3 linked regions of the Homo sapiens genome follow. The protein of the gene in region 2 interacts with the protein of the main gene of each other region in a biochemical or structural test. Each region holds a gene or a part of one and is shown on either strand. Other genes may lie near its edges.

Region 1 (5,970 bases), on a different chromosome or scaffold from region 2:
TCTGCATATTATTGGTACAGGGTATTCTTAATAAACGTAAAAAAGCTAATACATGTCCAGGTTGTAATAAAATACCTCTTTGTGGACCCTGAAAAACAAAGGCAAAAAGCATTGTGGATTTTGGTTTAGAAGAGGCTTTAGCAGCATTCCAGTCTCTCCTGTGATGCAGGAATCCCATCAGCAGCATCCTTAGCACCTGGTTACCCAGCCTTTGTACATGTCTAGTGACAAAGAGAAGAGGGGCAGATGGCATAAAAAAACAAGCCACAGCTGAGTCCAGCCTAGCTCACCCCGTTGCTGGTGTTATAACCTTGTGTATAGTGACTTAACTTTCTGAGTTTCTTTTTCCTCTCCTATAAATTGGGAGGAATATTCACAAGGGTAGTTATGAGGACAAAGAATAGTCTAGTGAATGGTTTTAGCACATAGTGTATAGTAAACAGTATTCATCCTTATGATGAATCTTGTTAATATTAATAACAAGACATGTCATTTGTTGGACAGCTCTAGTTTTAGAAAGGTGTTTTAAAACCGGCTCCATTTGATGCATACCAAATGCATTGCCTGTGAAGTCTATCCTTTGGTTATAATAAAGAATGTAAAAGAGTTAAGAGTTGCGTAACAGTAGAACAGCTTACTTCGAAAAGTAGCTAGTTGCCCATCAGGGAAAACTATTCAAGCTGTGTTCTAGCCCAGACTAATTGACCATCTGTGAGAAGTTGGATAAGTCTGTGTTCTTCTTCATGACTTCCAGGGACAGACGTGAACCTCTTTAAAAAAAAAAATTAGGGAAAATACGCAATTTTTCTCTTAGAGCCCCTTCCAGCAGAGAAACTTATTATTCTTAATGAAACATGTCTACTGTCTGTATAACCTTGTTTCTTTTCTTTCTTTCCTTTTTTTTTTTTTTTTAATTGACATGGAGTCTCACCCTGTTGCCCAGGCTGGAGTGCAGTGGCATGATCTCGGCTCACTGCAATTTCTACCTCCTGGGTTCAAGTGATTCCCCTGCCTCAGCCTCCCGAGTAGCTGGGCCTACAGGTGCCCACCAGCACACCCAGCTAATTTTTGTATTATGATACAGGCTGGTCTTGAACTCCTGACCTCAAGTGATCCGCCTGCCTTGGCCTCTCAAAGTGCTAGGATTACAGGCATGACCCAATGCGCCTGACCCCTGTATAACCTTATTTCATCCTTATTTCATGGACCGAAGGCCATGATCAAATAGGTCATGTGCATAGAGTCATTAAAATGTAATTTTACAAATGCAGTGCACAGCCTTATTTGGGTCCTGGATTTGGGGGAAAACATCTATAAAAGACATTTTGGGGATAACAGGATAAATCTGAATATGAAGCATAACTTAAATGACATTATATAATTAATTTTCTTAGGTGTGAGAATAGTGCTGTGATTATATAGGCACATGTCCTTATTCTTAAGACATACCTGCAGAGAAGTATTCAGGGGTGAAGTGTTATGATATCCAAAACTCATTTTCAACCAGCAAAGTAAGTGTTACATATTAACAATTGATAATGCTATGTAAAGGTACAGATATGAGCCTCTTTCAAGAAAAGTTAGGGAAAATATAATATGCAATATTCCTCTTAGACCAGAAGCTCCAGTGAAATTCAGGGATGATTATTATCCAAAAAAAATTAACCTTAATGTGGGGTAACATTAGTGTAATTTCTTGCCACTAACCATGATTTTTTAAATGGAAGCAGATCTATCTGTTTGTAGCAGATCTATCTATTGTTGGTTATAAGATAACCAACTCTTAAATCAGGTCTGTGCTGTAACATAAGACTAATAATATGTTTCATACAACAGAGGTCTTGTCTGTTGGAATAATTATTTTCCATAAAGGCCATGTGCTCGCTTTTAAACTTTTCACTCATTTTTCTATTTATGCTCTAATCAGGTTTTCCGGTGCCTTCCCAATGATGAAGTACACAATTTAATTCAGCTGAGAGACTTTATAAACAAGCCCGTATTAGCTAAGGAAGATCCCATTCGAGCTGAGGAGGAACTGAAGAAGATCCGTGGATTTTTGGTGCAATTCCCCTTTTATTTCTTGTCTGAAGAAAGCCTACTGCCTTCTGTTGGGACCAAAGAGGCCATAGTGCCCATGGAGGTTTGGACTTAAGAGATATTCATTGGCAGCTCAAAGACTTCCACCCTGGAGACCACACTGCACACAGTGACTTCCTGGGGATGTCATAGCCAAAGCCAGGCCTGACGCATTCTCGTATCCAACCCAAGGACCTTTTGGAATGACTGGGGAGGGCTGCAGTCACATTGATGTAAGGACTGTAAACATCAGCAAGACTTTATAATTCCTTCTGCCTAACTTGTAAAAAGGGGGCTGCATTCTTGTTGGTAGCATGTACTCTGTTGAGTAAAACACATATTCAAATTCCGTATACCAAAATCCATTTCCTTTGTAACAAGAATTTACCAGTAACTGTGATCTAGGTTGCCAAAAGTTGTCTGAATCTCCTTATTCTTCTCTGATCTTCATTTATGCAGCCAATGTCTAGCTGGACCTGCCCTCATCTTGCAGTTCATACAGGCACTGTTTGAGAGATTGTTTATTATTAGATGTTGTAATGCTGCTTCAAGATTCTTCATGGTTACATGGGATGCCCCTGCTCATCTGGTCCTGAAGTAGTAACATTCACCCAAATGAGGATATAGTCATTATTCCTTTTCAGTCACTGTACGAACACGGCAGACTTTAGCCTACACAGTAGACTGTGTTAGGCACTTCTGGTAACATTGACACTGTATCTTGACACCACTAAGCAACAGGAAGGAATAAATTCCAATATTGAGACAGAGATTTATTTCATTTTGCTCCCAAAGGCACTGACAACATGAGTCCTTGTGATTAGGCCCACCTGATCAAATGTAAAAACATGCATGGGATATTTGATTACGTAACAACCAGCTAAAACTGAGAGCACACAGCCTTCGGAAACCCCCAAGGTGTCGAGGAGGATCAGATCCAGATAAGAGAAGATGATTCCTTCTAGTCCTGTAAAATTTCCTGTCATCCTTAGCTGCTGGGTTGATTGAAATTTGATCTCTACATTTCAAAATCAAACTAGTGAATACAGTTTGTCTTTCAAGAGAATCAGAGGCATCGTAACTCCTACCAAGTTAGTAAGTATGAGTCTAACCTTGTTTGACATTCAGGTCTTCTGCTACATTATCTTCTTTGAGAAAAATTAATTGATTATAAAATATGTGCTACTTCACTTACATTATTAAATATGTATTAACGCCTCTCACCAGGGCTTCCAGTGAAGTTACAATGCCCTAGTCTGTGAATTAGTCTGGAAACGTGTTTTTCCTTTTCGGATGTTAGAGTACCCTTTGATAAACTAAATTTTACTAAGCTGAACAACTCTGACAGTCTAAAGAGCTAATGTGGGTTACCAAAAGGCCTGTACCTGTAAAACAAAATGCAGGTGTAATGATTATACATGTCTATGGATTACCTGGACATACTCTCATTTGGGTTGTTCTTCAAAGAAGCAAGCAGCCGATCCCTGTTTTCATAAAGCTAATACTTCAGTTGGAAAAATTAAACAGGAGCACAAAGTCAGGGATAGGGGTTAGCAGAAGAGAGAAATAGTGTCACATCAAGGGCAGGATCTCATAGCTAGGGAACATTTCACAAATAAGGTGAGATTTTGTAACCAATAATAAAAATGAATGTTTTTATAAGTAAATAACTTATTTTTCATATGGCTAAAGATGGTAAAATGACTTCATTCTATAGCCATTGTAAATAAGAATTTGCTATTGATGAAAGAAGTTCAGATTGGCATTTGAAGTATTGAGTGTATGGGATCTCTAAGGATTTCTTAGATTTTATATTTAAATATTTTTTAAACCTTAGAGGAGTCAACAAACTGGCTCTTGATTTTCAGCACCCTACTCTCATGAAAAAAGCCTGAAAGGACCCTTTCCCTTATAAGTAATTTAATCCAATTTCTCCCCATTTTATAGATGAGGAAACTGAGGCTCAGATCAGATGAGAACTCACTTAAATCCACTCAATGTGTAGATGGTAGAGCTGGGACTAGCAACATTGCTGCAGCCCATTGTTGGCCTCTCTCTTCACTTTATCATTGCCCAAGAATGAGGATATGCAGTAAACAGAATTCAGGCAAGATACCTCTAAGCTGTTTTGAACCCTCTGATATTTTGTATTTATGTGTTTGTCTGTCTCCCCCTACTAGAATGTAAGCTCCATGGGGCAGGGACTTCACTGTATTTTGTTCATAGTGTATCCCCAGAGCCTGGACCAGTGCTTGGCACATAGGAGATGGCAATAAATGCTTGTAGAATTAATAAACAAGGTGAAGGAGAGAGCTAATGAAATGAAAATCTTAGTCTCATATAAGAAGTCTTACTACTGCTTTCTATGGCAAGTTCCTTTTCTATTGCATCTTCCCAAAGACAAGATGCTCATCTGCAAAGGGGTGATAAGATTTACTTGGAGGGATTTTATGGAAAATTCAGTGCAATAATTGCTTTTTTTTTTTTTTTTGCAGTAGCAGTTTACATAGTACAGCATTCTGCAAAAATTGCATGAAATGTGGACACAAGATGTACTGTATGACTTAATTACCTGTCATTCTCTGACACCATTACTACCTACTAGAAGTTCAAATAATTTATCTTTAACATTGCAATATCTGATAAACTTTTTAAAATGTAAATAATTCAAAGCCTTGAAAATCTATCATGAATCTGCTCAACATTTCAAAGTGACTATTTTGAAATGCCTATAAATGCTATATACCTGACATCCTGCTAATTTCTGTAATAATTTTTGTTTTCAAGAGGGAAAAATTCTAGTATTACAAAAAATGAATGATGGAAAGTGGCCATGGTGTATTAAAGCTATTCAGATTGGCCACGTTCAGTCGTCGGAGGATAGCCTTAGCATAGCAAGTCTGGTGCGGGCGTTTGTTCTGAATCTAGTGTCCAGCCCATGACTCACCCTTCGGTGGGATGTTTTTAATTCTTACCTGGAATGCATCACAGGGAGGCATAGAGAGCTGGTCATTAGATAATTGTGTGGCATACTGTAAAACAAAATGTTTATTTTCAAAGCACTTTTGAAAGGAAATTTTGTCTGTAAGTACTCAAAATATGGACAGTTAATTTCTTATGTAAGAACTTGGGAAATTATAATATCATGAATTAATACTTTTCCAGACAAAAACAACAAGCTGAGAAGTCATTTTGCGGATATAAGACTAGGAAAAATAGATTTATGTATATAGAGCCTGAACTTTTTCTGCATCTCCTCATTTCTTTTTTTTTCTTTTTCTTTGTTTTCTTTTCTCTTTTTTTTTTTTTTTTTTTTTTTTTTTTTTGAGACTGGGTCTTGCTCTGTGGCCCAGGCTGGCAGTGGTGTGATCTCAGCTCACTGCAGCCTCTGCCTCCTGGGCTCAAGCAATCCTCCCACCTTAGCCTCCTGAGTAGATGGGACTACAAGTGCATGCCACTACACCCAGCTAATTTTCGTATTGTTTGTACAGATAGCATTTTTCCATCCCAATGCCAAGCAGGCGGATTGCTTGAGCTCCCTCCCCTGTGCTGGGATTGCAGGCGTGAGCCACCGCACTGGCCTCCTCATTCCTTATTCCTTCAGTCTCTATCCCCTACCACAGCACCTTCTTGTTATGTAAAAATTATTTCAAAAGACAAGAAAAAGTATTCTGGAAAAAAAATCAGGCCTTATATTAGTCTGCTCAGGCTGCCAAAACAAGATGCTCTAGACTGGGTGACTTAAACAACAGAAATTTATTTTCTGACAATTCCAGAGACAGGAAGTTGGAAATCAAGGTGCCTGTATGGTAGGTTTCTGGTGAGGACTCTTCCTGGCTTGTCGGCCACCTTCTTACCGTGTGCTCACATGGCCTGTTTGTGTGAGCACAGGAG
Region 2 (8,447 bases):
TGCAGCTCCCGCAGCTCGCCATGCAGCTGCTCCAGGCGGCGGTTGGAGGACCGCAGCAGCTGCTGCACATGGCCCAAGTGGCGGCGGTCTGTGGCCACGCGCCGCAGGTTCTCCACCCCCTCCTTGATCTTCAGCTCTTTCTGGATGGCCCGGCGGATCACCTCCTTCTCATCCTCTGGGGGCCACTGGCTCGGCCCAGGCTGCAGAGCCGGTGGAAAGCAGAGGGTGGAGAACAGCCATGGGGTGCAGCGGCCACCAGCAGCCTTTGCTCACTGCAGATGGAGGCGAAGGAAGGGACGGCACCCAGGACTGACTCGCACAGGGTTTTGGAAGCCTCTCTCCCCTTAGAGCTCAGGCCTGAGCCAGATGGAAACTCCGAGGCCACTCATCTAGGCCAGGCTCCTGTCCTCCGCCCGTTAGAGAAGGATGTGGCGGGGGGGACAGTTCACACGGTAAATGGGTGCCAGGTTCTATTCTAAGTGCTTTGCATATATTACCACATCACTCCTCCCAGCCACCCCACCCGGTAGCGGTGGTCATTACCCCCATTTTCTTTTTTCTTTTTCTTTTTCTTTTTTTTTTTTTTGAGACAGTTTTGCTCTTGTTGCCCAGGCTGGAGTGCCATGGCACGATCTCGGTTCACCACAACCTCTGCCTCCCGGGTTCAAGCGATTCTCCTGCCCCAGCCTCCTGAGTAGCTGGGATTACAGGCACACGCCACTAAGCCCGGCTAATTTTGTATTTTTAGTAGGGACGGGGTTTCTCCATGTTCGTCAGGCTGGTCTTGAATCCTGACCTCAGGTGATCCACCTGCCTTGGCCTCCCAAAGTGCTGGGATTACAGGTGTGAGCCACCACGCCTGTACTATTACCCCTATTTTCTAGTGAGGAAACTGAGGCCCAGAGAGGTGAAGTAACTTGCCCACAGTCAAGACACAGAGGAGGGGCCACCATCTCTCGGGCCCCAGCTGTCCCTGGCAGCCCTGGGTAATCAGGCTGCTCTCTCTACATCTGGGACCCAAAGTAGAGTCCAGGAGCCACAAAAGCTACGCCGAATAGGGGTTCACACGAAGCCACATGAGAAGGCAGCCAGGGGCCTGGGAGCCAGGGCTTGTTCCCCTGATGTCCCAATGCCACAGGTAGCAAAGCAGAGGCACAGAGAGGAACTGGGGAGGTCTCCGGGTGCCCACTCCCTGCTCAGCTCCCGGGAGGAAGTAGAAGGCTCTCTCACGGCTTCACCCAGGTTGGAGCCAGGAACAGGAACACCTCCTTTCCAGCCGCCAGCATTTCAAACCAACCGGTGCCAAAGGTGACCTCAGGCCGGGTAACCCATGATGCCCCGCAACACGGGCTGTTGCAGGAACCCCATCTTACCTCTCTGTGTTCCATCTTCTCCTGAGCCCAGTGGAAGGGGCCGCAACCCCAGACTCAGGGACCCCCCCACCCCAGACCTCAGCGGGGCCTGCTGGCCCAGCTGTCAGAGGGCAAGGGCGAGGCTCAGGAAATCCTCTGACCGCCCTAGGCCACAGGGCCAGAGCCAAAGACCGGAGCAAACAAAGGTCCCATGGAGCTGGGGGCCCGGCCACCGGGGTCCTGAGTCACCCAGCTGCCGCTGCAGGGCGGAGCCCCGCAGGAAATCGGAAAATGTGTACAAGCTACGTCTGGAACAGGCGGAGGGACCTCCAGAGGAAGGGGGTGGGAGGGGGCAGACCGAGCCCCAGCCCTGAAGGCGGCCTAAACGACTGGCTTGGGCGCTCAAGGAGTCTACACGCACCCCGCAACACCCCCATGGTCCCGTCTGCCCTGGGTTGGAACTCCAACATGGACACACACACCACCTCCTTTCCGCTCTTTGCGGGGACCCACTCCTGTCCGCAAATGCCCCCCTCCCAACCACTCGCTCCGGAACAGGACACCACCTCTCCCTCCTCAGGAGCAGATAGACATGGCCTCGGTCCTCCGGGCCCACGCGCACCTACTGCCAGCTCTGGCAGGAAACCCAGCCCCCTCCGCATTCTAGAACCCGCTATGTACCCAAAGGTTCCCGCCCTGGGGCGGGGGAGGCCGCTCCCCTCTCATCTACGCTCCCCTCGTGCCTCCTGTGCTCCGGGAAGGACTCCTGCCACTGCCAAGCGCGCACAGACTGCGCCCCCCGCTGCGCGCACATTCTAACCCCCCCAGGCCCCTGTGCCCCGCCTTTCTATCCCGGCTAATTCCCGTCGGCCTTGGAGCCCCACCGAGGAGAACCGACTTAAGGACACTCTGGGGACCACCCTGGTGGCGCACACTGCGGACTCAGCCGTCCTCGCTCACGGGCTGGTTGGGGTTCAGTCTCCGGGTCAGCCGCGGACTGATTTGGAGACTGTGCAAGGTCCAGGAACCACCGAACCCGGAGATCAGGTCTGCTCTGCGAGGGCGTCGCGGGGCCGGGGCCAGGGCAGGGGCAGGGAAGGGGCGCGGGTGAGGGGAGGATCGGGGGAAGCGGCCGCGGTTCGGGGCTCCGGGGCGATGACAGAGGCTTTCTCGCACCCCCCGGGCCCGCGCGCCCCTCCCACGCCGTTCACCTGCCGCGGCGCCCCCTCCTCCATGGCGCCGCTCCGGCCGCTTGGGGCCCTTCTCTCAGCCACTCCGGTCCCGGAAGCCGCAGACCCTCCGCCAGGACTTTCAAACTTGAAACTTCCCGGGAAGCGGCGCCGGAGACGCGGGATCGGGCGCCCCCTCCCGAGACCCGCTGGCCCGCGGGACCAGCGCCGCCTCCCGTCCGCGCCGATCCAGCGCCCGGGACCCCACGCCCGAGGTCCCGCGCCCCAGCGCCTCCCTCGGATCCAAAATTCCGCGGGATTCTGGGCCCAGTACCCGGGCTTCGGCGCCTGCGGTTCCCGCTGGGCGTGACCGCGCCTCACCCCCGGTTTGGACGCTCAGGAGGCACATCGCCCGCGCCCAGGTCCTCTGGCCTTCCCCGCCGCGCGCCCGCGGGAGCCGGCCAGTTAGGGACAGGGATGGGGGAAACAGCGCCCCCTGAAGGTTGCCGGGTCGCCCAGCCGGGTGCAGCCGGTGGAGCTGGCCGCCTCCTCTAACTTTGAGCCCCTCTACAACCTGGCTCCCGCCTCTAACGCGCTGGGCCTCCTCGACCAAGCCCCTCAAGTCTCTCTTTGTCTCGCACGTTGTTGGTGTAATGTGGGCTAATCCAAAATTGTCTCTCTCCTCGGAGTGGTTGGCCCAGACTAGATATTAGTCACTACAAGAATGTATACTAGGCCAGGTGCGGTGGCTCACGCCTGTAATCCCAGCAGTTTGGGAGGCAGAGGTGGACGGATCACGAGGTCAGGAGTTCGAGACCAGCCTGGCCAACATGGTGAAACCCCCGTCTCTACTAAAAATACAAAAATTAGCCGGTCGTGGTGGCGGGCGCCTGTAATCCCAGCTACTCAGGAGGCTGAGGTGGGAGAATCACTTGTACCCAGTAGGCGGAGGTTGCAGTGAGCCGAGATCCTGCCACTGCCCTCCAACCTGGGTGACAGAGCGAGACTCCATCTCAAAAAAAAAAAAAAAAAAAAAAAAAGAACGTATACTTGTGGAAAAGTAAATCCTCACCCAAAATTATGATAAATTACAAATTACAGATGAATGAACCAGACCTCTCTCCGGCCCATCTCTTACTCAGACTGAGCTTGCTGGTTCAGCCCGTGCCACTTTTTAGGGCTTTACCCTAAAAAGCCCATCCATCCACACGGGAGAAAAGCCATTTACACCTGGTGAAATAGCCGCCACTATTTCAGCCCAAGGGAGGTGTGCTGGTCACTGCCTAGTCTATGGCGGGCCATTCAGCCCGTCCTGGCATCCTGCGTTTACAGGAGGTTGTGTCAGCACTTCGTGGAGGAGCGTCCTCCAGGAGGTGGGAAGGTGATGAAGGGTCAAATACCGACAGTGACTTGGAACAGACAGGCTCTGGTGCTCTTACTGAATGAAGGAAGCCACATGTTGTGCTTTGCACTAATCACTTCCTTCATAATGGACTGGAAAAAAGTGAAATTGGTGAGCCATGGACAACACTGGGTTGTCCTGCTATGGGAAATCACCCAAGTGGCATTGACATATAAGCAAAGGCAACTTGGCTCTGTGAAACATGCCCAGATTTCATAATCAGAGGCGAAATGTGACATTTACACATTAGAGTTGTTGAGGTCTAGACATTAGCAGAAGCACCTGGCACATAGTAGGTTCTTTGACATGGGGGTTGGCTGGGCATGGTGGCTCATGCCTGTAATCCCAGCACTTTGGGAGGCTGAGGAGGGCAGATCACTTAAGGTCAGGAGTTCAAGACCAGCCTGGCCAACATGGTGAAATCCCGTCTCTGCTAAAAAAAAATTAAAAAGGCAGCTGGGCGCGGTGGCTCACGCCTGTAATCCTAGCACTTTGGGAGGCCGAGGCAGGCGGATCACAAGGTCAGGAGTTCGAGACCAGCCTGGCCAACATGGTGAAACCCCGTCTCTACTAAAACTACAAAAAAAAAATATTAGCTGGGCATGGTGGTGGGTGCCTGTAATCCCAGCTACTAGGGAGGCTGAGGCTGGAGAATCACTTGAACCTGGGAAGTGGAGGTTGCAGTAAGCCAATCTCGCCACTACACTCCAGCCTAGATGACAAGAGCAAAACTGCATCTCAAAAAAATACATAAAATAAAAAATTAGAAAAACTAGCTGGGCGTGGTAGCGCACGCCTGTAGTCCCAGCTACTCGGGAGGCTGAGGCAGGCAAATCACCTGAATCTGGGAGGCAGAGGTTGCAGCGAGCTAAGATCACGCCACTACACTCCAGCCTGGGCAACAGAGCAAGATTCTGTCTCAAGAAAAATAAATAAATAAAAATAAAATAAAATGGAGGTTAAATGAACGTTATTATCCATCATTTAGAAGCAAAAAGGCTGACCAAGCCCAGTGGCTCATGCCTGTAATCCTAGAACTCTGGGAGGCTGATGAGGCAGGAGGATTGCTTGAGGCCTAAGAGTTCAAGACCAACCTGGCCAACATAGTGAGACACCATCTCTTAAAAAAGTAAAATAAAGAAGTAAAAAAGTCCTCAGCTTCTCACTGCAGCTCATCAAAAACCCAGGAATCAAACTAACAAGCCTTCCCCACCTTTTAGGAATTCTCCAGTGGTGCAATCAGTCCAGCCAGCTAATTAACACTTTAAAATGTGTATTTGCCTTGATGGCTAAATGTTACTTCTGGAAGCCAAGAGTAATCTGAGATAACTCTCCATAGGAGGGTGCTCACATCTCAACTCCCGGCTCATTTATCCACTCACTGCAGGCAGGAAGCTGAATTCGATGGTTTTCCAAGTTTGGTTGGAAAGTGGCTTTGTTTTTTGTTTTTTTGAGAGAGTCTTGCTCTGTCACCCAGGCTGGAGTGCAGTGGCTCAATTTTGGCTCACTGCAACCTCCACCTCCCGGGTCCAAGTGATTCTCATGCCTCAGCCTCCTGAGTAGCTGGGACTACAGGCACATGCCACCACACCTGGCTAATTTTTTTTTTTTTTTTTTTTTCTTTGAGACGGAGTCTCGCACTTTCGCCCAGGCTAGAGTGTAGTGGCTGATCTCGGCTCACTGCAAGCTCCGCCTCCAGGGTTCACGCCATTCTCCTGCCTCAGCCTCCCGAGTAGCTGGGACTACAGGCGCCCACCACCACGCCCGGCTAATTTTTGTATTTTTAGTAGAGACGGGGTTTCACTGTGTTAGCCAGGATGGTCTCGATCTTCTGACCTTGTGATCTGCTCGCCTCGGCCTCTCAAAGTGCTGGGATTACAGGCGGGAGCCACCGCGCTCGGCACACCTGGCTAATTTTTTATATTTTTAGTAGAGATGGGGTTTCACCATGTTGGCCAGGCCAGTCTCGAACTCCTGACCTCACGTGATGCACCTGCCTCAGCCTACCAAAGTGCTGGGATTACAGGTGTGGCTGCCGCGCCCGACCTGGGGAGTGTTTTTCACCACCTTACACAGGGAAGCCAAGTCCTGGACTGCTGGATGAGTCTGACCAGGTAGTTGCACCTTACTTCTGATAGTGATAACACTTCATAAGACTGGAATTCTTAGGAAATTCGTGTTCAGCATTTAGTGGACCGTGAATAGTGCAAACCAACTCTCTAGCCAGTTGGCCTTTAAAAGACTATAACTCACTGGGCGCGGCGGCTCGCCTGTAATCCCAACACTTTGAGAGGCCGAGGCGGGCGGATCACGTAAGGTCGGGAGTTCAAGACCAGCCTGACCAACATGGACAAAGCCCGTCTCTACTAAAAATACAAAATTAGCCGGGGTGGTGGCGCATGCCTGTAATCCCAGCTACTCAGGAGGCTGAGGCAGGAGAATCGCTTGAAACCGGGAGGTGGAGATTGAGGTGAGCTGAGATCGCGCCATTGCACTACAGCCTGGGTAAAAAGGGCAGAACTCCATCTCAAAAAAAAAAAAAAAAAAAAGACTATAACTCAACTGAAAGGAACCTAAAACTTGTCAACAGGCTGCATGAGGAAACATTTTCCCCCTTCCATGAATACAATTTTTTCCTTCTTGGTGTTGCAACCAATTTTTGTTTTTTCTGAGACGCCATCGCACTCTGTCGCCCAGGCTGGAGTGCAGTGGCACGATCTCAGTTCACTGCAACCTCCGCCTCCTGGGTTCAAACAATTCTCCTGCCTCAGTCTCCCAAGTAGCTGGGATTACAGGCGCCCACCACCATGCCTGGCTAATTTTTGTATTTTTAGTAGAGATGGGGTTTCCCCATGTTGGCCAGGCTGGTCTCGAACTCCTGACCTTGTGAACACCCACTCAGCCTCCCAAAGTGCTGGGATTACAGGCGTGAGCCACCGCGCCTGGCCCTACAACCAGTCCATTTTTATTTCGGTTTGTCTCTGGGTAGAATCTGAGCACACAATGTCACCAACTACAGTTGGTCTATACCCTCCACTTTAAAAGTCCTTGCTATTCTGCAGCCCTTTGCCTCAGGCCTATTAAAAAGTAAACTTGTGCTGGGCGCGGTGGCTCACGCCTGTAATCCCAGCACTTTGGGAGGCCAAGATGGGTGGATCATGAGGTCAGGAGATCAAGACCATCCTGGTTAACAAGGTGAAACCCCGTCTCTACTAAAAATACAAAAAATTAGCCGAGTGTGGTGGCCAGTGCATGTCGTCCCAGCTACTCGGGAGGCTGAGGCAGGAGAATGGTGTGAACCCGGGAGGTGGAGCTTGCAGTGAGCAGAGATCATGCCACTGCATTCCAGCCTGGGCAACGGAGCCAGACTCCGTCTCAAAAAAAAAAAAAAAAAAAAAAAAAGGAGTAAACTTGTGACTGGCCGGGCACTGTGACTCACGCCTGTAATCCCAGAACTTTGGGAGGCCCAGGCGGGCAGATCACGTGAGGTCGCGAGTTTGAGACCCGCCTGACCAACACGATGAAACCCCATCTCTACTAAAATATGAAAACTAGCTGGGTATGGTGATACGTGCCTGTAATCCCAGCTATTCAGGAGGCTGAGGCAGAAGAATGGCTTGAACCTGCTAAGTGGAGGTTGCAGTGAGCTGAGATCGTGCCACTGCACTCCAGCCTAGGCGACAGAGTGATACCTCTGTCTCAAAAACAAATAAAATGAAATCACTGGAGAAACAAAAACCGAGATGGTCTAAAGCAGAATATTCCTTAAGGTTTTGAAACTAGATGTAAGGACATCTTGCAAGCTACTGCCCTCCATCCTAATTCATGCAGTTATTAAATACCCCTCATAAACCAAATACAGCACAGCTTGGGAACACAGCCCCTTCCTAAACAGCCATTATTACTCTTGTCTTGTTTTGAACAGGGTCTTCTTGCTCTGTGGCCCAGGCTGAAGCACGGTGGCAAACTCATAGCTCAGTGCAGCCTCAAAACTCCTGGGCTAAGGCAATCCTGCCCCAGCCTCTCAAGTAGCTAGGATTAGCCTAGCGCCACCACACCTGTTTTTTTGTTTGTTTGTTTTTTAATGGTAGTGTTGGGATGTCCCTGTCATCCAGGTTGGCCTAGAGCTCCTGGACTTACACGATCCTTCAGCCTGGGCCTCCCAAAGTACTGCAATTACAGGTATGCGCCACTGTGCCCAACTTCTATTTTCTATTTTCAAATGTCCTTGAGAAAAGGAGCTGAGCCCATTCCAATACACACTAAAGACCAGCCCAAGAACTTGTCTTGCAGTTGGACACAAGGCATGCTGGCTACTGTGTATGGAAGTTTTTGGTACAGTAAGGTTGCCATTTTGTTTTCTCACAGCCTAGTTCTCTTACAAGATTTGCAGATATTAGTGGCACCTCAGGAGATCACAATAGTTGAGTGAACTACTACTACCTTAAAGGGCTCCCGATTTTTTACATTCCCGAAAATAAACGTTATTGTGACCTATAACCTGACAGCCCTAGACGCTCACCA
Region 3 (8,390 bases), on a different chromosome or scaffold from region 2:
ACGCTTAGGACCCTTGGCAGCCCCTTTTATTGTAGGGAGGAAAGAGGAGAAATTTCAATAATAATTTTCTGTCTCAGTTCCTCCACAGTTTCACATCAGCAGTTTTTTGGTATTAATACAATTATTTTTGAGCCTGGATGAAAGAAGTGTCCAGGAACACGGTGGTGCTGACTCGTCACAATTGCCTTGCTAATTCTGTCACTTCACCTTGTATATATGTTTTCGGTGTAGCCGTTTGACAGATATTGGCACACCAAGTGTCCTGGGTTTCAGAAATGTGATTTGTCTCTTCAGATATCAAAGACATTATTTGTGTAGGTGAGATTTTTTTTCCCCCTTCTGTCTTCAGGGAAGAAATGTCATTTTCAAGTGCAATTGCCATGACCTGGAAAAACTGACACTTGTATTTATTAGTTTGCAAAGAAGAATTAAACTTTTTCAGATTCTGAGTATTTACAGACTGCTAATGTAACAGTAACAAAACAGATTGATTGAGTCAGATTGGTTGTTGCAAAGGAAATTCTTCTCAGGTAGCTATATTAAAACCTAACTTATGTTTTAAACCTAAAATTTAGTAATAGTGTGAGACCTGAAGGCAGGAATTTTTATGTTGAATAGTAAAATTATTAATGGTGTTAGAAAGCCTCCAAAGTAACCTGTAGTAACCTTGGCTTATACTCCTCTGGTAGCTATTTTACTGCTATTTTTTTTTCTTTGCACATGAATCTCAGGAGGCACACTGGAAAGAATGGGGGTATTTTGAGAAATTTATAAAAAAGTTATTTAGAGTTAAAAAATGTAATTACATTTATGCAGAGACTTTAAAATGTTCATGAGAAAACTCATATGAGAACTTAACATTTATGTGTGTTTTTTAATCCATTTCAGACACGGAATCGATTTGAAGGAACAAGGTCAGAAGTGGAAGAGCTCATGAACAAAATCAGACAGAATCCCAAGGACCACAAACGAGCAAGTCAGTTTACAGCCGAAGGCTACCTGTATGTCCAGGAAAAAAGTAAGAGGCCCTCCAGCAGTGGCTGCGTGGCTGCTTAAAAATGCAAATTATTGAAAACTCTGCTATTCTTGCCATTACTGTGACATTTTGGGCAATTATTCCTACCTCTTTCTCTCCCTGCTCCTATCACCTAATGGGTGTATATTTCATGTTTAGGAGAAACACATTCCAGCCCTGGAGAGAGGGGGTACTGTGAGGTTAGGAGTGGCTGTGAGCACCCTGTTCTTCAGACACCCCACTAGCTTCTGTTTTACACTGTGTGCACCCCAGGAACATGCTTGTAAGAGAGTCAGAATTTGGTGTAAGGCTGAAAATGAGCCAGAGTTACGAGGGTATGATGTTTTTTCTCCTTCCCCCTCACCTCTACCCTCATCACCAATGCACACAGGCACACACATTCATTCATACACACGTATACGTCCTCTCCCTCCCATAACCCTGCCTCTCTGTCATCTTAAGGTCAAGAGGGACATATTAGTATTTTTCTTCTTCCTTCATACCATTTTTGTTCCCACCAGTCTGAGATAGCTGGTTCTTACTAAAATCATCAGGAAGATTGCAGATGGTGATAAAAGATATTCCTACGTGGCATCCTAACTTGTAGGCTTTTTAGTCTTTGTTGCTGTCTTAGCAAATATGCAGTGCATAGATTGTTCTCATTTTGAAAATTAAAAGACCTGTATTTCTTTCAGACTTTGAACATTTGGTCTTATTTTAACAGCTAAGTTCTTAACGTTTACTACGTCAACTGTACAACCCAATTGCTAGTTAGCAGAAGGGATGAGAATGTGAAATGGGTCTCTTTACTATTTCCCTCCCTCTCCACCCTTAACTGTGATTAGGGTGTTTTACAGTTTTCACTTCATTTAAGTGTGGCTGATTTACAGGACTTTCAATCCGACCTAAAAATTTAGTGGTAGACATGACTCAGGGAACGGTTACAGGGTATCTGTGCTTTGAATAGAAGTTAATGTTCTATGCAGGCAGCAGGATGGTTGTGCCTTTTCCATTTGCCCTTATTTAATCTGGAATCTCGCAGCCTTCACCTTTTGTGAGCAGTTGTATGATATGGCAGAAGTCTCCATTTTTCTCATACATTATCTTCTTAATCTCAGTTTTTAAAATTGAATTTGAAAGAAATAAATTAAAACTCAAGATAGGGCTGGGCGCGGTGGCTCACACTTGTAATCCCAGCACTCTGGGAGGCCGAGGTGGGCAGATCACGAGGTCAGGAGATCGAGACCATCCTGGCTAATACAGTGAAACCCTGTCTCTACTAAAAAATACAAAAAATCAGCAGGGCGTAGTGGCGGGCACCTGTAGTCCCAGCTACTCGGGAGGCTGAGGCAGGAGAATGGCGTGAACCTGGGAGGCGGAGCTTGCAGTGAGCCAAGATCGCGCCACTGCACTCCAGCCTGGGTGACAAAGCAAGACTCTGTCTCAAAAAAAGGAAAAAAACAAAACAAAACAAAAAACCACCTCGATAGTCTTGAGAATGTTAGAATTATTTGTATTATATGCCCAAGTGAAAATCACAGGAAACTTTAATTTTTAGATTCATCACTGTTGCCTTTGAGAGAAATTGGACTGAAACAACATAACAGTAGTGGTAAAATTCTTTCCTCATTTACTGTATACCCAGCACTGTGCTAAATTCGTATACAACTTGTCTCATTTATCCATAAAACAGCCCTATGAAGTATAAGGTACTATTACTGTTGCCCATTTATAAATGAAAATGGAGGCACTGAGAGGTAAATAATGTTCCCTAGGTCATACAACTACTAAATGCTGGAGTTGTCATTCTGAACCTGGAGTCTGTGTTGGTAATGTCTCCCGTAAATTGCTTGGCGCTTGAACAGGCGTGAAAGAGCATCATTAGTGTGTATGCCCAGAGCTGGTTGAATAGGCCCTGTTGGTTGTCAGAAGGGAATGGTGGCTTAAGTAGTGGAAAGACCTTGATATTTGGGGCCAGAGATTCTGATTTAAGGTTTGGCTTTGTCATTTTCCAGGCATTTGGGCTAAGCTTAAATTTTTTTTGGATTAAATAGACAGTATCATCCTCTCTGGGCAGTTTTTTTTTTCTTAGAGTTAAATAAAATATCTGTGCAATATTTTTTTTGTCAACCATAGAACACAGTACAAATGCTGGTTCTTTAAAACACAAAGCAATGTTTCCCAAATTCAGGTCTTTGGACTGATGATGGTCTGAGATAAAATTGATAGTGGTCTGGTAACCCTTTTCATCTATTACCCCTGTCCCAAATAATGTAATTAGCTTTTCCTAAAGCTAGCTAAAAGCATTCCTTTTACATGAGTTATTTTTCCCCTCCTGGGCTTTTTTGATTTTTAGGTGTAGAAACTTTGTTTGTTTGTACATGAAATTACTGTGATAACAGATGTTAATTGCTTTTTTAAAAGTGTCTTGACTCAGTAAAGTAAGAAATTGTCAACTTCTGCTGGGCCTAACCTTTAATTTGTTATGGTTGGACTTTTATTGGCATGTGAAGTTCCAGATGCTAGAGGTCCCTCTGACATACAGCATTGTCCTGTGAGCCCTGATGGTGGTACTGCTGACTTAGTAAGAGTGGAAAAGGGGTTCAGAGAGTGTTCTGGGGCATACTTGGACAGTCACTCCTATTGAGTCTTAGATTTCTTATTCTTCATACTTTTTTTTTTTTTTTGCTGAGATTACAGGCATGAGCCACGAGGCCCAGCCATTCTCTTGGTTCTTAAGATTTTTTTAGACCTTACTGATTACAGTAATGTTAAGCCAGACAATACCAATGTTATTTTATTTTATTTTTTGACAGTGTTGCTCTGTCACCCAGGCTGGAGGGCAGTGGCACGATCTCATCTCACTGCAACTTCCGCCTCCTGGGTTCAAGCCATTCTTCTGCCGCACCCTCCCCAGTAGCTGGGATTACAGGCACGCACCACCACGCCCAGCTAATTTTTTTTTTTTTGGAGACAGAGCCTCTGTCACCCAGGCTGGAGTGCAGTGGCGCGATCTCAGCTCACTGCAACCTCTGCCTCCTGGGTTCAGCCTATTCACCTGCCTCAGCCTCCCGAGTAGCTGGGACTACAGGCGCGTGCCACCACGCCTGGCTAAATTTTTTGTATTTTAGTAGAGACAGGGTTTCACAACGTTGGCCAGGATGGTCTCCATCTCCTGACTTCGTGATCCACCCGCCTTGGCCTCCCAAAGTGCTAGGATTACAGGCGTGAGCCACTGCGCCTGGCCCATACTTCATTTTTAAAGGCTAGCTTTCAATCATCAGTAAGAGCAGCTGCTTACTAGGATGCTGTTCATGGACTTAAAGCACTAGGTGGATTTTTAGACTAGATGCTTCTTAGCACTATGATTCTATAATTCTATCATTTTGAGAGGCCAGAATTAAATCCCAAACCATCTCATATATGGGATGGAACTTTTGAAACCCTTGTGAGCTCTTAATACCTAGAAACAAACAAAAAATAGAGCTTACAATTAAGAGATTTTCAGATAGGACATAACTGTTGATTTTTCTAGCAAACTATTTAAACAGTATGTCTTTAAATCACTTCTGTCTTGCTAAATCTTAGAGGTTTGTTTCAAAGTATCTCTTATTTTCCTTCTTCCTCTTTTTTTTTTTTTTTTTTTTGAGTCGGAGTCTCGCTCTGTTGCCCAGGCTGGAGCGCAGTGGCGCGATCTCGGCTCACTGCAAGCTCTGCCTCTTGGGTTCACACCATTCTCCTGCCTCAGCCTCCCGAGTAGCTAAGACTATAGGCGCCTGCCACTATGCCTGGCTAATTTTTTTTAGTAGAGATGGAGTTTCACCGTGTTAGCCAGGATGGTCTCGATTTCCTGACCTTGTGATCCACCCGCCTCGACCTCCCAAAGTGCTGGGATTACAGGCGTGAGCCACCGTGCCCGGCCTCCCCTCTTCTTCTTAGAACTAGCAGTATTGCTGATTTGTTTCATTGATTCAGCTGTATTCGTTGCTGCGTTTTAGACATTTCCTCTTTAGTAATGTGTTTATAGCTCTGCAAATCTGCTTATTTATGAGGGAAAATATAAAGGGCTGTTTTTTTGTTGAAGGGCCTGCTCCGTTTGGTTCCAGTTGGGTCAAACACTATTGCATGTATCGAAAAGCAGCAAAGAAGTTCAACATGATCCCATTTGAGCACAGATCTGGAGGGAAACTTGTAAGTATTTGATTCAACATAGAATAGATTATAATCTGTCAGAGGTAGTGTTTGAGGGTGTCATTTTAATGGTTTATATTTTAATGGTTTATATTCATGGATGGTAAATAAATTGTTAGTATTAAAATCTTTGTTTTGTTTTTGAGTGAAATGGGCCAGAAGACAGAACAATATATATGTTTTCTGAATTACATGCATGGGTTTTAAACCACTAGATTTTTTTTTTTTTAAGTTCTGGGATACATGTGCACAACGTGCAGGTTTGTTACATAGGTATGCATGTGTCATGGTGATTTGCTGCACCCATCAACCCATCATCTACATTAGATATTTCTCCTAATGCTATCCCTCCCCTAGCCCCCAGCCCCCTCACAGACCCCAGTGTGTGATGTTCCCCTCCCTGTGTCCATGTGTTCTCATTGTCAGCTCCCACTTAAGAGTGAGAATATGTGGTTTTAACCACTAGATATTTTTTAGGTGAACAATAGAATCCTTTTTATGCCACTGTTTGGAAGATAAAGGTAACACTGACAGCAAGCTTTCATGACTCAGTGGTTCCTCAGCATTTATACAATGGAACTGACTTGCTGTTCATAGCCTGAAAACAAAGAAGAGTGATCTACGATAAATTTTACTGTTGTTCTGTTCATCTTACAAAGTTCTCACATAGGTATTCACCATTTAGTTAACTGTTCCCCCTGAAACTAAAACAGCAAAGCATGATAGTAAGAAAAGAGCAAGAAGACCTCACAGAGTTGGCTGTGTAGGAAAGGTGATCTTTATATGTATTTTAAATGGAATCTGCAGCTTATTACAATAATTAATGGCCTAGAGACAAAGCTTCCCACCAATGTTGAACATAATTGATAACACATTTTAAGAAAGCAGCTTAATTCATTGCTTACTGGGTGAATGGGTATGGTTTTGCTTAGGTGAATAAAAAAAGAAAAACCTATGTTCACTTCTATTTACTTGTACTATGCCTTTCCCTGAAAAATATTTAAAGCAGCTTTTAATAAAAACACATTTATATAATAATGAAACAGACATGGAAAATTAGTCATGGTGAGGAGAAGGAAGTGAGGAGATGGCTCTTGAAGCATCAGGTTTGAGACTGAGTTTCCTGTCAGAGCCAGTTCAAGTCCTAAGATATTTCTGCTTAGTGATATCTTTCTGTTTTAGCCTCCAAATAATAATGATAAATATGTTATGGAATATAACTGTGAGATTTTGAATATTTGTGTATCTTAATGTTTGTTACTTAGAGATCTTCACGTTCTGGAAAATGTTAAAATGTTCAATAAGTGTGTACTCACACTTTATATAGTTGTTCTTTTACTGAGCACTTGTATTTCTGCATTGCAAATTAAGTAAAGATAAATTCAGGGTGATTCACATAGGGAAGAGAGAAATTGCATAGATTAAATGGTTCTAGCTTTAGATTATGAAAATATTTAATCTAGGGTTATCGGTGTACTTTTAGGCTGACGTGTATGGAATTGCAATTTTTATAGGCCAAAAATAGTCACATATTTTTTGTGACATGTGGTAAGAAATAAATTTTTACACTAAAAAAAAGAGTACAATAAGAGACTAACAGTATTCCAGTATCTTAAAACTGTACTGTTAATCTACCTTTGAAAATTAACATTTGGCCAGGGACACTGGCTCACGCCTGTAATCCCAGCACTTTGGGAGGCCGAGGTGGGCAGATCACTTGAGGTCAGGAGTTTGAGACTGGCCTGGCCAACATGGTGAAATCCTGTCTCTACTAAAAATACAAAAATTAGCCAGTCATGGTGATGCACACCTGTAATCCCAGCTATTTGGGTGGCTGAGTCACAGAGTTGCTTGAACCCAGGATTCGGAGTTTGCAGTGAGCTGAGATTGCACCACTGCACTCCAGCCTGGGCAACAGAGCAAGACTGTCAAAAAAAAAAAAAAGTAACATTGGTATTGTCTGGCATAACATTACCATCATCAGTAAGGTCTAGAAAATCTTAAGAATCAAGAGAATGGCTGGGCGCGGTGGCTCACGCCTGTAATCCCAGCACTTTGGGAGGCTGAGGCGGGTGGATCATCTGAGGTCAGGAGATTGACACCAGCCTGGCCAACATGGTGAAACCCTGTTTCTACTGAAAATACAAAAATCATCCAGGTGTGGTGGTGCATGCCTGTAATCCCAGCTACTCTGGAGGCTGAGGCAGGAGAATCACTTGAACCTGGGAGATGGAGGTTGCAGTGAGCCAAGATCCTGCCACTGCACTCCAGCCTGGGTGAAAGAGCGAGGCTCCCTTCTCAAAAGAATCAGGAGAATGACAAAAATATTAATATTTTAGATTCTAAATAGCATTTAAATAAGCCAGTTTGAAAGAGGATAGGGTAAAGAGAAGGACTTAAGATCTTGAACCTTGCTCCCCTGCTCTCCAGTATAGAATGGCTGAGTGTGTATATACTTATCCTGTAGGTTTTGAGAATGTTCAAAATGATTATTTGCAGGGGGACGGAGAGGTGTTCTTTTTGAAAGAATGTACCAAGAGGCATACTGACTCCATTGACAGAAGGTTTTGTTTTGACATAGAAGCTGCTGATCGGTAAGTTATTGGAATTATTGGACATGGTGAAAGAGTCGTTTTAAAAAAATGATTTAAAAAAATAGAGGTTAGTTGCAACTGTGATTTCTGTGGCCTGGGAGAATGTTATCTTGCTATATTTCCAGGCTGTGTGTTCATTATAAGCTGTTTAGTCTTGATCACCGGGTTTAGCTATGGGGTGATAGTTTCATCTTGATTTAGTTAGGAGTCATTCTAACCAGGGTTGTCACTTAAAAAATAACCTTGGAGGCCAGGTGCAGTGGCTCACACCTGTAATCCCAGCACTTTGGGAGGCCGAGGTGGGCAGATTATGAGGTCAGGAGTTCAAGACCATCCAGGCCAAAATGGTGAAACTCTGTCTCTACTAAAAAGACAAAAAAATTAGCCAGGCGTGGTGGCATACACCTGTAGTCCCAGCTACATGGGAGGCTGAGGCAGGAGAACCATTTGAACCCAGGAGGCGGAGGCTGCAGTGAGCCAAGATGGTGCCACTGCACTCCAGCCTGGGCGACAGAGTGAGACTCCGTTTCAAAAAAAAAAAAAATTGCCTTGGAGCTTTTCATTGTTGATCCAAGCCTAATTTGTAGCAT

The links.
Region 1: the proteins of PKN3 (region 2) and PLD1 form a complex in vitro, tested with the Homo sapiens proteins (one study listed by IntAct).
Region 3: the proteins of PKN3 (region 2) and ARHGAP10 form a complex in vitro, tested with the Homo sapiens proteins (one study listed by BioGRID).

The regions. Positions count from the first base shown.
Region 1 is NC_000003.12:171,599,260-171,605,229, reverse strand, and holds the end of PLD1 (phospholipase D1), read left to right. Parts: intron 1-1,927; coding exon 1,928-2,152; 3' UTR 2,153-4,826; downstream 4,827-5,970. UniProt on the Homo sapiens protein: Function as phospholipase selective for phosphatidylcholine. Implicated as a critical step in numerous cellular pathways, including signal transduction, membrane trafficking, and the regulation of mitosis.
Region 2 is NC_000009.12:128,697,056-128,705,502, reverse strand, and holds the start of PKN3 (serine/threonine-protein kinase N3), read right to left. Parts: upstream 3,001-8,447; 5' UTR 2,588-3,000; coding exon 2,564-2,587; exon of another isoform or gene 2,079-2,563; coding exon of another isoform or gene 2,034-2,078; exon of another isoform or gene 1,389-2,033; coding exon of another isoform or gene 1,374-1,388; intron 403-1,373; exon of another isoform or gene 201-402; coding exon 1-200.
Region 3 is NC_000004.12:147,874,133-147,882,522, forward strand, and holds part of ARHGAP10 (rho GTPase-activating protein 10), read left to right. Parts: intron 1-888; coding exon 889-1,018; intron 1,019-5,099; coding exon 5,100-5,206; intron 5,207-7,705; coding exon 7,706-7,800; intron 7,801-8,390. UniProt on the Homo sapiens protein: GTPase-activating protein that catalyzes the conversion of active GTP-bound Rho GTPases to their inactive GDP-bound form, thus suppressing various Rho GTPase-mediated cellular processes. Also converts Cdc42 to an inactive GDP-bound state.